Linked DNA regions of Homo sapiens: region 1 is linked to region 2. A link means that fine-mapping ties the variant in region 2 to the expression of a gene that starts in the linked region. Tissue or cell type: lung. Region 2 holds a variant in brackets; the other region holds the start of a gene. All regions are shown on one strand. Distances are from middle to middle.

Evidence for each region. PIP is the estimated chance that this variant, and not a neighbour inherited with it, causes the effect.
Region 1: GEN1 starts here. The variant in region 2 is fine-mapped to the expression of GEN1 in lung (TOPMed, PIP above 0.99).

Annotation. Positions count from the first base shown.
Region 1 is chr2:17,749,280-17,757,425 of GRCh38, reverse strand. GEN1 (GEN1 Holliday junction 5' flap endonuclease) reads right to left here and starts at 3,288. Exons shown (of 14, transcript NM_001130009.3): 1 at 3,081-3,288. SMC6 (structural maintenance of chromosomes 6) reads left to right here and starts at 3,616. Exons shown (of 28, transcript NM_001142286.2): 1 at 3,616-3,800; 2 at 4,362-4,448. RefSeq lists silencers at 3,501-3,640, 3,781-4,140.
Region 2 is chr2:17,682,321-17,690,320 of GRCh38, reverse strand. It overlaps SMC6 (structural maintenance of chromosomes 6), which reads left to right. Exons shown (of 28, transcript NM_001142286.2): 24 at 6,558-6,683. Among named protein-coding and RNA genes, the nearest start is that of SMC6, 67 kb to the left of the region's middle. The variant C/T (reference allele first, on the strand shown) is at 4,237.

The DNA.
Region 1 (8,146 bases), 67 kb before region 2:
AACTGTATTCCTTCTGAGGGTTATGGTAAAAAAAAAAATAAAACAGCAATAAGGTAGACTCTTGATTTTATAAACTGCAGTCCTCTAAGTATTTCAAGTATATTAAGATCATTGTGTAAAGCTGTTAATTAAATATATTATTAACAGGGGGCAGCCATGCCTAAAAAAAAAAAAAAAAAGTCCAGCACTGATTCGATTATTGGAAACCCCTAAGCAAGATAAAGAGGGCTTTTAACCCCATAAATAATATCTTTAATATCACATGATTACTACAGTTAGAATTTAGTTTTTATTATTTCATTTCTTTTGTCGGAAACAAACCTGGTTTAAAGAATGATTAACCATGGTTAGTTCTGAAAGAGGAAAATTATGTGAAATGTACATTTTATTAGAAAGAACATCATAATATTTTAAGAACGCAATTAACTCCAAATCTCTGTTTCCATCATCAATTGTTTTCCATTCCTTATCACATGTTCTTTGCACCAGCTGTTCCGCGGAAGTGATATTAAGAAGCAATGGTTAAGACTGTAAAAGCATAAAACATTCCAAAAAAGGACAGAATGCAATAGCTTCTAAGATATTAAAGTACAACTACACTGAAAGATAGAACAGATGGTTCTTGCATGAGGTCATAATCAATGTGATGAGGTTATTTGAAAATGGCTCAGCATTAAGTAAAATTTAAAAATACTACACTAGCCGGGCATGGTAGCTCATGCCTATAATCCTGGCTCTTTGGGAGGTCGAGGCAGGCGGATCACCTGAGGCCAGGAGTTTGAGAACAGCCTGGCAAAATGGTGAGACCCCATTTCTATAAAAATAAATAATAAAAATTAAAAATACTACACCAAGAACTATGTATAATTTCATCTTGCTTTTTAGTTTTTTTTACTATGGTAAAATTTTAAATTTTTTTGGTGTGGGATTTGGTGAGTTCCCACTCAAATCTTTTATAATGAATAAGTATATTGATGTCAATCTGTTCATACAATCAACATATATATATCAAAAGAAGTCTAACATCTTCATAATTTTTTAAGAATTAGCTGTCACACAAGTCTACTTACATGAATCAATGATGTAAGAACAACACATAGCAAATAACTTTATAAACCTATTAATGGCTTAAATTGATTTAGCTTACTTATTTGAATCAACAAAGTCAGAACACATAGCAAACCACTTCATAAGCAATGGACTTCAGATAGGAAGCCTAGGATTTGGGTTTTGAATATACCACTGATTAGGTGTATGACCTTGGGAAGACATTTAACCGTTCTACAAAATGACAGGTATTAAACCAGATGCATTACAAGATTCTAATATCTGTAATCTAGTATTTAATATTTGAATTGCATGACCAACTGGTAGCATGGAATAAAAAAAAATCACTCTATTTCAGAAAGTATTGCTTGGTATAATAGAAAGAACATAAATTTCCATCTTAAAGGACTTAAGAATCCACTTCCAGTTAAAACAAAAACAAGTCCTTTGATGTAACCATATGGTGCCCATAAATCAATTTAAGTTCCTAAAACTTCCTTAAAAGCTAATAAGCTTTTATTGGTTAATTATAAAACTGAATGAGGTGAGAAAAACACAGAACCTTGTTAATTTCACTAATGAATCAAATTTAAAGAACATAAAGAGGTCAGGGGCTTAACTGATGCAAAAATACACACTTTATTAAAGCAAGTTTTGCAATTTAGTTCAGCTTTAAGAAAAACATTAGAAAATTTACTTCGGAAAAGCAGAAAATGCTTAAATTTCCCAATTTCCATTTAGATGAGTATATATTCATATAAAGACTGGTAAATGGTGAAAACTATTTCAATGCAAGATTATATTTTAAGGGATTTACCACATAATCTCAGTAACTAATGCTGTTCTTTAAAATTATTTTTTCAATTTTATTTTCATATGAATTTAGCCTAAACGTTGAGGCATACTTCACGTTTATCAATAAATACTTATTAAATGTCTACTATTTAACAGGAAAGCTTTATAGGTGCTGGAGATACAATAATGGAAGATCAAGCCCTGCATTTAAAGACCTTAGTAGGGTAAGTGAGACTGCAGATAAAAAGGGCTTAAGAGGTAAGAAAGCAAGCTATAGTTGTATTTAGGAAAAAAGGTCCCCCACTTAGGAATCAAGGAACGGTTCCTGAAGCAAGTGACATGTAAGTAGGGACCTCCCAACCGTGTTTCCCATTGGTTACAACAAGGCCAGATGTTTTGGTCTATTTTGACTATGTCATATTTTTCGTTGATCCATGGCAAGGGCCACAGTAGGAATATAATATATATGTGATTACTTTTAGAAATAAAAAGTGACTTTGATGTAAAGAATTCCATTACCGGAGGCCAGAATTTCAACATCAATTTATTTGGAGGTGGAGTGAGGTGGCAGTCAATGCATTATTTTCCCCACACAGAAGAGAAGATTTTGGAGTATGAAAAGTAGGTTACTTGTTAGGTCAGCATATTCATGGGAAGGGTTGTGTAAAGACTGAAGCGGGAGTGTGGGGTTGAGAAGGGCGCTGAAACCTAAGCCAAGGAAGTTAAGACTTCATTACTTCTGACGTTTATTTAGGGGGTTTACACTCTAGGTTACCGTGGGGGAAAGACTGATTGTAAATAACTACAATACCTTAAAGTAATTACTATAACAGAACTATATCCGAAATACAAGGTTAACACGGAAAAGGGAACACCCAACTGTGCCTATGGGGACCAGGGAGGGCTCTCCCGGGATGGCTTTGAGCGAGGCGTGGGAATTATCCCCATCGCATGCCCGGGGGAAGCACAGCGGGACCCAGCAGCTTCGGCCAAGCGCAAGCGGCCGGAGAACGCGCAGCTTTCCCGAGGCGGGGTGACGCAGGGCCCTCGCGAGTGGAAAACAGGGGCCAAGTCGCGGCCTGGCGGCTCGGTTCGGACTTCCTACTTTATTCAAAGGGAGTCATTGAAGGCGTTTTCGGAGGAGCAGCGAACAAAGAGCTCGTCCGTAAGCCAGATGGTCAAAGGAATCAGTGGGAGGACCCGGGCGGCGCCGTCTCTCCACGTCCCGCGGGACTTACCCGGACAACCCTTCCTCCTTGGCTCTGGAAGAAGCCCCTTCGTCATTTACCAGTTTGGCCTGAATCCTAACTACTGTGCCTCCAAATTTCTGAATTTTCTCAAAAGGAAAAAAAAAAAGGAAAGTCCTCTTTCTTTACCCAAGCAAAGACTAGCTCCCCGGGCTCAACCGCCAGGCCCAGGAGCACCAGGAAGCGTTTCGAATCCAGCGCCGGGCCCGCGCGGCCCCGCCTCTTCCGGGAAGTGACTGACCCCTTTCCCCCAATGGGGCCCGCTCGGCTTTCCCTTGCCGGCTCCCAGCCGGCCTAGCGGACGCATGCGTAGACCAGCTGCCGGGGGCGCTCAATTATCTTTCCCTTTTACTTAGGCAAATCACTCACCTCCCCCGAGTCCGGTCACTGCGGAGCCGCCCGTGCCTACCAGCTTCCCCCACCCGCTAAGGGGCACTTCCGGCCTCTCAGACTCCGGCGGCGCGAAACCCCGCAACTGCGCAGGCGCGGGCGGAGCCCGAAGGGAGGGAGGGCGGGGCGCAGGCGCGGTTAGTACCGCGGTGGGCGCCGGGGCTCCCGGGAATCTACCTTCTCCTGCGGCCGGCACGCGGTTCCCAGGGGGCCAGCGGCGGTCAGCCGAGGTCGAGACGCCCGCAGGGTGGCCTTAGCGGCCGGTCGTACCACGGCAGCCCCGCCGATCAGGTTCCTTTGGGAGACTTCGACTTGTTGGCGGTAGGGTGAAGGCGCGCGCTGTCGCTTTCCCTTGCTCCGGGGTTCATCCTCCGCCCGCTGCCCCCTTGGCTGGCGACCCCCAGCCACCCGGGAGAGGCAGGGTCAGCTGAGCTGCGGCGGTGTTCATGGTCGTCCTTGCGGGCCCGGGCGGGAGATGTCCGTTCCTCGGGCGGGTCGGGCGGCCGGCGGCACCTTCGCGCGCTCTCCGAGGCGGCACCGGTCTCCTGAGCCGCGGGAAACCTGGCGTCTGCTCCGGGCCGTCCCCTCCCAGGCGGCCGTCCCCTCCCAGGCGGCCGTCCCCAGACTCTCCCGGGCTGTGGCGAATAACTGTAAAGCGGGGAGAGGTCTGGGGAAAGCTGGGGTAGGGAGTGGCTCTTAGCATGAGTCTGATGATATCTCGCAGGCGGCAACTGGTGTGTTTAAAGGGTGTATGCAAAGATCACTGAAATCGGATTTGTCATTAAAGCCCAGTTTTACGAAAATGCAAATTGTATTACCTAGAAAAATTAACATGTGTTCAAAGGTTTACTGATGGCATTTCTCTGCCCTCATTTCTTACAGAAATGAACCGGAGAAGAATCCCAATTGGGAATTGCGGAAAACAGGACTCTAGGGTAGAGAAAGGTTGTAGAACCAATAGGGTTTGAGGTAATACTGTGAAAATTCTTAGAGCAATCATTTGGTGTTTGAGCCCTCAAGACAGAAGTTTTGTGAGCGCTTATTACTCTGCATATGTCACGAGTAGTAGATTAAAAGCCAGTGTTTTAAAGGCAAACTTCTCAGTAATATATATTCAAAGGAAAAAAGAAAAACCCAAATCTCCTGACTTTTATATGGTTGCAGTGTGATCTTTTAACATGTACAATAGTATATACAGTGGCATGCAGTTTGTTCCATGGGTGTGTGGGTAGAGAGGGAACATATTAGAACTTCTATTTAGATTTATTTCATTTGATTTCTACGTGAAACATAGGGTATTAATTTTATGTTGGAACATGTATTTCAAATTTCTTTTGCTTAATGGGTGCAAGTACAAAACGTTTGGAGGCCACTAGTATATTGCCTAAAAGCGTGTATTTATATCACAAAAAGCCAGAATTGTGTGACTCTGAGCAGGTTGGTACCACCTCTTTAAGTTTCAGTTCTTCTTATGCAAGTTGGAAGAAATAATACAGTTATCAGTGCATCCTCTGTATCCGTGGACTCAATCAAGGGACTGAAAATATTTCAGAGGAAAAAAAGTGGATGGTTGCACAGACTTTTTTTTGTTCTTGTCATTATTCCCTAAACAGTACAGTATAACAACTATTCACATAGCATTTGCATTGTGTTAGGTTATATAAGTAATCTAGAGATAACTTTTAAGTATGTGGGGAGGTTATATGCAAATATGACACCATTTCATATAAGGGACTTGAGCATCTGTGGATTTTGGTATCTGAGTGAGAGAGAGGGGCTGTCATTTTGGAACCAATTCTTAGGGATTGACTGTACCTAGCTGACAGGATTCTTAAATATGTGGACACAGAGAGGAAGAGAAAGTTATGTAGTTATATATCGACATCTGTCTGCAATCCGTATAAACCAGTTAGTATTGAGCCTGGCAAAAAGTACACAAGTCATGTTAAAGGTATTACAGTGAAAAACAAGTTTTATTCCCCAAAGGTTTATTTTACTGAGTGTATTTTACTGAATCTGTAGAATTTTATGTAAAACCTACCTAAATCTTGACTGTCATTTTTAGACCAAAGTTAGGAAAAATAATTAAAGCTGTACTTGGCTTACTTTTAGGAATTAGTAAGTAACTCAAAATTTTACCGTGATAGCTTGCATTATATTTAAGACACAATTAAATGCCATAGTTCTTTATACACAACGATAAGTCCAGCTGACTGAGGGTCAAGCGTAGTTGCTTAGGTTAATGTTAGCATTTTTGATTCACTATTTAAACAAGTTAACATCTTTTCTCTCTGAGCATGCTTTTCTTGGTCACCAAATTCAAACTACTTCCAGTAGCTTCCTTAGCTCCACCCACAAATCTTTCTCCATTGCAGAGTATCCTTTACTACTGACTGGCCTCTATCTCAAAATACCTTAGGAGCACTTGAAACTCAGTGTTTTCTTTCTTTCTTTTTTTTCCTCTTTTTTTTTTTTTTTTGTTTGAGACAGAGTTTTACTCTTGTCGCCGAGGTTGGAGTGCAGTGGTGCAATCCTGCCTCCCGGGTTCAAGCGATTCTCCTGCCTCAGCCTCCGGAGTAGCTGGGATTACAGGCATGCACCACCACACTTGGCTAATTTTGTATTTTTAGTAGAGATGGGGTTTCACCACGTTGGGCTGGCTGGTCTTGAGCGCCTTACCTCAAGTGATCCATCCATCTCGGCCTCCCAAAGTGCTGGGATGACAAGGCGTGAGCTACTGAGCCCAGCCCAAACTCAGTGTTTTCAAATAAAATAAATTTCATTCTCCCTACTTGCCAAACCTGTTCCATGAACTTATAATGGCATTTAGTATTAAGTGTGAAGATGAAACACAAAATGAAGTTTTATAAAGCACACCCAAAGTTTTGATTGACTTTAATAGTAACATTAGAGAATCTTTTTTTTTTTTTTTTTTTTTTTTGAGACAGCTGTTCACTCTTGTTGTCCAGGCTGGAGGGCAGTGACATGATTTCGGCTCACTGCAACCTCTGCCTCTCAGGTTCAAGTGATTCTCCTGCCTCAACCTCCTGAGTAGCTGGGATTACAGGCATGCGCCACCAAGCCCAGCTAATTTTTTTTTGTATTTTTAGTAGAGATGGGGTTTCACCATGTTGGCCAGGCTGGTCTCGAACTCCTGACCTCAGGTGATCCGCCTGCCTTGGCCTTCCAAAGTACTGAGATTGCAGGCATGAGCCACCCGCCCAGCCAATAATAGAATCTTTTTTTTAAGTTTAATGAAGGATAGACGAGATGAAGGACAGATTAATAGCCAATTTCACTCTCTATGAATAATTAACTGTCAAACTTCAGTTTATGCCAGTAGGAACCTGGGCGTTAAAGAGGTTTAACTGGGTTTTGACAAACCTGGATTTGGATCTGAGCTCTGCTATGTTAGAGCTATAGAAGCCTTTGTATGTTAGAACTAAGTTGTAGCTACATAAATTCAAGTCATTTACTTGTGCCTCAGTCTCTCCTTTTGTAAAAATAAGGGCAATATTTATCTCATAAAGATGTTGGGGATCAAAGGAAATAGAAAGTGTTCATCTCAAAAGCTAAGTATGTAGTTATTCAGCAGATGTTAATTCTACTCACCCATTTGTACTCACCAATTCTACTAATTCAGTCTTTTAAATCTCTTGTTTTATCTCTTCCCTTTGTCCCTGATATTACCACTGCTTTTGTTTAGCAACTCATCTCTTCTGCTACTATTCTTACTTTCTGTTTCATCTATCTTCTATATTGAGCCACAGGATGTTTTCAGTACAGAAATCTAAGTGTTCAGATTTTATTAACTGAAATGCTGTGCTTTATACTTCCCGGTTTTGCTGATCCTGAAATTTTAGATGGGTGGACTTAATGAATAAGTCTCATATAATTTCGTGATATATTCCAAGCAGTGTACTTAATTAAGCACATTCAAAATGAAGTTGTTTACCATAGAATAAATGTCTGTTGTGATAGGCAGAGTAGAATTGAGGATGTGGTAAACACAGGCCAGGGCAGATTCAGAAGTAGTAGTAATTTGCCTTTTTAAAAAAATGATAACACTTTTTTATTAAATTCTAATTCTGTTATGTGTGTCACTACTCTTAGTTCCTAATTTGGTATTAATAGGAAATATGAATTATTATATACTTAATAAAATTTAGAATTCTGTTAAAATGCATGATCTCTATCAAATTTCCTATGCATCTACATGCAATAATGAACTCTTGGTTATTAATTTTTTTTTTCTTTTTGAGACGGAGTATCGCTCTGTCACCCAGGCTGGAGTGCAGTGGCACAGTCTCGGCTCACTGCAACCTCCGCCTCCTGGGTTTAAGCCATTCTTCTGCCTCAGCCTCCTGAGTAGCTGGGACTATAGGCGCGCGCCACCACGCCTGACTAATTTTTGTATTTTTAGTAGAGACGGGGTTTCACCATATTGGCCAGTCTGGTCTCAAACTCCTGACCTCGTGATCCGCCTGCCTTGGCCTCCCAAAGTGCTGGGATTACAGGCGTGAACCACCGCGCCCGGCCATTAATTTTTCTTCTTGAACTTATTATTTTATTGATAATCTTCATTGTTCCTGCTTGTATCCTGTAAGGGAGAAATGAGGTGTTCTTTAATTCTGTTTTTTTTAAATTATAAATAAGTAAAGAAATAT
Region 2 (8,000 bases):
CACCTGGCCACAGGCAGTTGTTTAAAAACCATACTGTTTTAGTTATTGTGGCTTTATGATGTTCTTTCTGATTTTCATTGTTAATTTATTCAGTGAATTTAGTAACCTGAGCAAAAGCTATTTATTTTTCTGTGCAAAATCAATTTTAATTCCATGGTCTGCTAGTCACTCACATATTACATTTCTCTATTAGTTATAAAGTAAAATAATTGCAGTAATGATTTAAGAAGCAACTGGAGCTCAAACGAAATTTTAATCCTAGTGGATTTTCCCATTTGGAATTAATAATGTATTGAATAGAGAAATTGCCTAGATCCAATTGCCATAGACATGCATCCATTATTGTAAATACAGCTGGCTCTCTGTATCCACTGATTCCATATCCACAGGTTCAACCAACCACAGATTGAAAAGACTGGGGGAAAAAACTCAAAAACAACAAAAAAAGAACACAATAGTAAAAACTAATACAAATTTTTTAAAAAATACAGAATACAGTGTAACAACTATTTACATAGCATTTACATTGTCTTAGGTATTATAAGTAATCTCTAGAGATGATTTAAAGTATACAGGAAGATGTATATAGGTTATATGCAAATACTATGACATTTATAAAAGGGATTCATGGATTTTGGTATCTGCCCAGGGGGCCCTGGATCTAGTTCCTTTGCAGATACTGAGGGACAGCTCTATCAAAAATCATAAAACTTCAAACATTATTGAAAGGCCATATATATTTAGCATGTATACATGCACACATATACATACACTCACATTACTTTACTTTTTTTTCTGTACCATTCAAAAGTAGGTTTCATAAATCATGACCCTTTACCTCTTAGTACTTCAATATATTCCCTAAGAATAAGAGTATTATCTTACATAACCACAATACTGTTATAAAGTACAGGAAACTTAACATTGATACCTGTAGTCCAGTTCCAATGTTGACGGTTCTCCACGTCTTTCCTACGATATCAGATGCAGTCTAGGGTCGTGTATTTCATTTGTCATGCTCTTTTACAGAATGCTCTTTGTTTTGATTTTATACGATATTTTTTCTTATAATTAGGTTCATATGTGTTCTTGGCCAGGATGCTACAGAAATGATGATGTATCGTTTTCTGGGTATCACATCCAGAGGCACATAATCTGTCTATCTATTTCTCTCTCTCTCTCTTACTGATGATGTTAATTTTGATCACCCAGTAAAGGTGTTAATTGGTTTTTCCATTATATGCTTTACTATTTTTTCCCTTGCAACTAATAAACATTCTGCAGACAGACACTTTGCAACCCTGCCAGTATCCTGCTTTTCATCATATTTTCATCCCTAGATTTATCCTCTGCTAATGATTCTTACCTGAACGAATCTTTACTATACTGCTTGCAAAATGAGGAGTTTTCAATTCTGTTGCATCCTTCATATTTATCAGTCACTTGTAAGGAAGAGCCTATGTTATCTCCAATTTATCTATTTGTTAATTTATTTACTTGCCTTTGCAATATGGACTTTGCAATTATTGCCAAATCCCCTCTGCAAGATATGTTTACAATTATTTTTTTTCTGGTATTTAGTAAATTTACTGTGTTGTAAAGTTACTTGGATTAGGTTTTTCTCTCTACTGTTACAGTTATTAATTGACTTGATTTGGAAATGTTTCTATTTGCATTCAGTTTCCACAGATTTCTGTTTTACTCAATGGACTATAGTCATTTACGGTCCATGTTTATCTTAAGATTTTCTTTTTCTGAGACAGGGTCTCGCTCTGTTGTCCAGGCTGGAGTTCAGTGGCAGGATCTCGGCTCACTGCAACCTCTCCCTCCCGGGCTCAAGTGATCCTCCCACCTCAGCCTCCCAAAGTGCTGGGATTACAGGCATGAGCCACTGCATGGCCTATTTTAAGATTTAAATTGTTCCATCTTTGGTCAAATGGAGGCTCTTCAAGCTGGTTCCTGCATTTTCTTAACATGCTTTCCTTCTTGTTTTTTTTTTTTTTTTAATAGCATTTTTAAACTTTGTGACATAACAAAATATTTCAAGCTCATTCTATACCTGACCCAGCCTTGGAGTCAGTAACTTCTCCAAAGAGCCCTGGTTCCTTTTTTTAAGGAATGATACCTAAAAACAAAATTTGGATTTTAGGGATGCTAATTGTTGCTGGGGTAGCATTTCTTCCAGTACCTTTCAGTTAACAGAATTAAAAACGTGAGTTTGTATTGGTGTCTCCAGTGGCAGTCCAGTCCCACAAAGGGCTTTTTAACCTTAACCTATTCCTTGTTTCTGTCTTTTTTTCCTCCACAGGAGGAATTCTGGCTCTCAACAACGTTAATATTTACTCAGTTCCACAATATATATCTACAGAAAGAAAATTATTGAAAAACATTCAAGATGTGTTTGCAATTATTTTTTCTCTACTATTTAGTAAATTTACTCTGTTCTAAAGTTATTTGGATTAGGTTTTTCTTTATTGTTGTAGTTATTAATTGACTTGATTTAGAAATGCTTTTATTTGTTTTTGTTTACATTCAATTTTTCTCTGATCCTTGTTTATTTAATTTCTCTTTGAGGGGAATATGTAGAAATTAACATGGTTTCACAAGTCAAAGCCATAAACAAAAGTATATTCAGGGAAATGTTCTCCCTCTTTCATCCCTTCCACACCATTTCCCCTGGCCCACTCCCTATAGGCAACAGTTCTTTTTTATTTTCTATCTTTCATGTTTTTTATTTGTTTGTGAAAGTAAGCAGGTTCATATGTGTTTTCTTTTTTCCATGGTTCCTCTACTTTTTTTCACAAAAGGTAGTCAACCATCTTGCTTTTGTCATTCACCAATGTACCTGAAGATCACTCCATATCAGTTCATTGAGATCTTCCTCATTCTTTTTACAGCTTCATTGTACTCTGTTTTGTGAGTCTGCACACACACATTGATCTGTACCATAGTTTATTCAGTCATTCTGTGTGTGTGCATTTTGGTTATTTCCAGTATTTTGCAGTTACAGATAATGCTGCAGTGAATTATCTTGCACATGCACGCACACATGTATATGTGTGCTATTGGATACACTTGTGGCATCATATAAGTGCTCGAATCTGTATCTTCATAGTAATTTTCCAGAAGTGACTTTACTAGTTTGAAGCATAAATGTGTAAGTGGTTTTGTTAGATATTTTCAAACCTTCTCTATAGGGTGTGTATCATTTTTGCATTTGCGCCAACATTGTACAGGTTGAGTATTCCTTATCCAAAATGCCTAGAACCAGAAGTATTTTGGATTTTGGAATATTGGCATATAGATGAGATATCTTGGAGATAGGACCCAAATCTAAACACAAAAATTCATTTATGTTTTATATACACCTTATACACATAGCCTGAAGGTAATTTTATGCAATTTTTAAATAATTTTGTTCACGGAACAAAGTTTGTATACATTGAATCATCAGAAAGTGAAGACGTTACTATCTTAGCCATCCATGTAAACAATCTGTGGTTGTTTGACATCACTGTCATTCCTGATTCTGAATTTATATAAGCAATCGTTTTCTTACACTAATTCACACATAAGTACTTAGTAAAAAATGTAACATACATATCCATGTATGTATGTCATACATGTACAGAAAAGATACATCACAGCTGAAGGGGGCTAGGAAGGTCTCTTTTCCCTTGGGGGCACTGAATAAATAAACTGCATTGTGTACCTGCGTTTTTACTGCAACCTGTCCCATGAGGTCAGGTGTGGAATTTTTCACTTTTGGCATCATATCAATGCTCGAAATGTTTCAGATTTTGAAGTATTTTGAATTTCAGATTTTTGCCTTGCTTTTTGGGACGGAGTCTCACTCTGTTGCCCATGCTGGAGAGCTGCGGCACAATCTTGGCTCACTGCAACCTCTGCCTCCTGGATTCAAGCAATTCTCCTGCCTCACCCTCCCAAGAAGCTGGGATTACCAGCACCTGCCACCATGCCCAGCTAATTTTTGTATTTTTAGTAGAGACAGGGTTTTACCATGTTGGCCAGGGTGGTCTCGAACTCTTGACCTCAAGTGATCCTCCTGCCTTTGCCTCCCAAAGTGCTGGGATTATAGGCAGCAAAGTGAGATACCGTACCTGGCCAAATTTCAAATTTTTGGATTAGGAATGCTCAACCTGTATGAGAAAGGATACTTTTTCCCCAACTTTGCCAACAAAGTGTATAGTGTATAGTTACGCTTTGTAATTTGTG[C/T]CTGTCTGATGGCTGAGAAATTGTATATTAATGTAACTTTAATTACATTCCATCATTATGAATAAAACTCAACATTTTTTCATATATTTAAGAATCATTTTTATACCTTGTGAATTATCTATTCTTTTTTAAAATTATTTTTCTATGGTGTTTTTCCCCTCAAAGTTTAAGTTTTTAACATATATATATATAGATATATATGGAGTATTAGCCAAATATTGCAGATTTTTCTCTTGATTTCTTTGTTGAATTTGCATTTATATTTTTTGCCATGAAAAGATTATTTTTATTTAGTTCAATTTGTCATTCTTTGATTACATCTGGATTTTGGGTCATAGTTAAAATGCTTTTCTCTACATCTAGGTTATGGAGGTATTCACCTATGATTTTTTTTTCTTATTCCTTTTTCCACATGTTCTAATTACCTATGATTTTTTAGTACTTCTATATGTCCATTTTTGTATATCTGTGATTTATTTGGAGTTTATTTTTATGTATGGTGTGAGGAATAGATTTTGTCTTTTTCCACATGACTATGCAGCCATTTGAAAAGTTGTTTGTTCTTTTTTGCTTGAGAATGGTGTGTATGAATATTTTCTATGTTTTACAAGTTGATAAGAATTTGTCTTTAGCTTTTATGTTTGAAGGATAGTTTCACCTAATATAAAATCCTTAGCTCATACTTTTTCTCCTGATGAGCATCTTGTTTATGTTGGTGTTTGTCTATTATGTCCTGTAACTTATCCAGAATGTTAGAATTCAGTGATTTTTTTCATTGCTAAACATTGCTTTTTCAATATTTAGATTTAAGTCTTTTAGTTCTTAAAAAATTTGTTGAATTTTACTTTAAAATATTTTGTTTCATTGTTTTGGTTTTTTTTTGAGGTCTTTAGTTATGTTGAATATCTATATCTTCTCTAGTTATCATTTTGTCTAACCATTTTGTCTTTTTTTTTCATTTTGCTTGATTTTCTCATTTATGTTCTTTATTTCCATCTATGTGTTTTCCACATTTCTCTTTTCTCCTATGCATCTTCTCATTTTGTCTTCATATCTGTGTGTGTTCTTTTTAGGAGGAGGTTCTAGCCCTCCTACCTTCCCGTCTGTGGGTTCTCTTGCTTTACCTACTCCTCTTGTTTGATTATTACCTTCTTTTGTGTATCTATTCTTTCAGTTCTTTTATGTCTGCTTTGAGGTATTCCTTCCTGGTAGCACTTGTCTAATGTTCGTGTTTGTTTGTTTGTTTGTTTTTATTCTTTAAGACAGGCTCTTGCTCTGTCACCCAGGCTGGAGTGCAGTGGTACAATCATGGCTCACTGCAGCCTTGAACTTCTGGGTTCAAGTGATCCTGTGCCTCACCCTCCTGAGTAGCTGGGACCACAGGCACATGCCACCATACCTGGCTAATTTTTATTTTATTATTTGTAGAAACAGAATCTTGCTATATTGTCCAAGCTGGTCTCTAATTCCTGGACTCAAACGATCCTCTCATCTTGGCCTCCCAAAGTGCTGGGATTATAGGTGTGAGCCAATACAACTGGCCTCTTGTTTTGTTTTAATTTATGGTGTTCAATTATAATTTTCATCTGCTTTGTGGCAACACTGTTCTAATAAGTTTTCTTTGTCTGTAGGAGAGTTTTGCTGTTCTTTTTCATATTTTCCCCATAAATATCTGGATGCTGTGCCAGCGCGTTTTTTGTTACTTATTTTTTTAATTAGTTGAATTTTCCTGGGCCAGTTATTTGAAGGAGAATGGGAAGGGTAGCTGTGGGAGCCTCGACCAGGGTTGCCTTTCATGCTAATTCAGTTATAGGCTTGCCACAGTAATAGGCTGTTGCCTTTTGTAATAGCACTCTGAGTAGCCATGCCATCTCTGCCTCTTTGATCTTATCTTGTTTAGGACAGGGGAGGGTGGATTCTAATGCTGGCTTGAGTTCTTTTTTTCTTTTATTGGCATCTGTCACTGAAGGAAACCTTTCTTCCAGTGTGACCCCTTCCCTTTTTGAAGGTGTGTATTTGCTAGTATTCTCTAAGATCTGCCACCTCTAGGCCGTACCAGGGCATTTGTTCACACACTGTCTCTGCCTCCTCTAGGGCTTGGACCTTGTTCCTTCCCTGTCAGGATAGCACTTTCTTATTCCGTACCACCCTTTCATTCTGGGAGTGTAATTTGCCTGGAAATTTATGAAATTGACTGCTACTAGGCCCCCTTAGTACTCTCTGCCCCTCCCTGTTCTTCCCAGTTAAATCTGTTTGAGATTCTACTGTTATGTTTTTTACGTGTGGTGTATTTTTTACGTAATATTTTGTTTATATAATAGGCAGTACCAAGAAGCAAGAGAGACCTATCTTGATCTGGATAGTAAAGTGAGGACTTTAAAAAAGTTTATTAAATTACTGGGAGAAATCATGGAGCACAGATTCAAGACATATCAACAATTTAGAAGGTAAGTACATTGAAAAATGTTACTATATATTATACATTTTTGTGTTTCTCTGTTTTCATATTATTTATATAATTCTGTTATAGCAGAGACTATTAATGCTTGCTTTGTTATTCAGTTCTTAGGATTCTCTAATTTAATCAGACAATTCCGAATCTGAAGGGCTCTTTATGGTGAGCTTATCCAACTTTTCCACTCTGTTAGATATTCTTTATGCTTAATAGGTCTTTTATGCTTAAATAGGTCCTTTGAAAGGGAACTCATTGGTTCTAAAATAGCTTATTTTACCCTTGACTATTGCATGTTTTTAATGGATACAAGCATTTGGTAGGAACTATAAAGGTAATACCTCAGTTGATTTACCATAATCTACTAGAATGACGTAGCTCCATGAATGTAGAAACTCTGTTTTGTTTACTGCTGTATCTCTAGTTTCTATAATCATACCTGATACATACCAATATACATTGGTTGGATAAATGAATACAGAATTAGGGAAACTGGATATTAACATATCCAGAGATGTACAGACTCACAGAGATAGATTGACTCCAACTGATCACAAGTGACAGAAATAAACAGAGGATAATTGATAGGGAGGGACGGTCCTTTAATATACATGAATCCGAGACAGCCCTAGTCCTTCCATTTGCCTCTGTTTTTCTCCAGGCAAATTCCCTCAGTAATACACTTTTTAAAACTGTCTTTACACCAAAAATTCTACCATCTTAAGCTTGTACAAATTAAAAAAAAAAAAGGTACCTAGCTCTTATATTCCTTAGTGAAACTACAGGTTAGTTTTTGAAATTCCTGTTTCAGTTTTACAGGCATATTAGTAGGGCTTGAATTAAATAGGACCCATTTTTACCCTTTTGAGGCTACTTTTAGCCTTGTTAGATGAGATTAGAGCAGCCGTTGGTTGTGGGCTAATTTTTTCCTACCTCTGAGGCAGTGCTATTTTGAGTACTCTACCGATACCTTGTAAATCACAAGGTTTTCACTCTGGCCAATAAGAACATGAACTATTCCTGGTCGTGTGTGAGCTGTCGGAATTACTTCTATTTCCTTTGGATATTTCTTTTCCCAGCCTCAAATGGTGTCCTCACACCTATGCACTGACCAGTACTCAGCTCAAGACTGGAGCAGAACCCTTTATAGATCCTCTGGAGTTTATTTTGCCTCCCCAGATTCCCAGCTCCAGCTCCTGAAACAAGAGCAACAGCTCCACTTTGATTTCTACTCCTTTGTCCTCTGTCGGTGAAGAGCAGTGTGGGGCATTGGTGGGGTTCAATTTGTTTCCTAGAACTAGCAGGCAGTTCT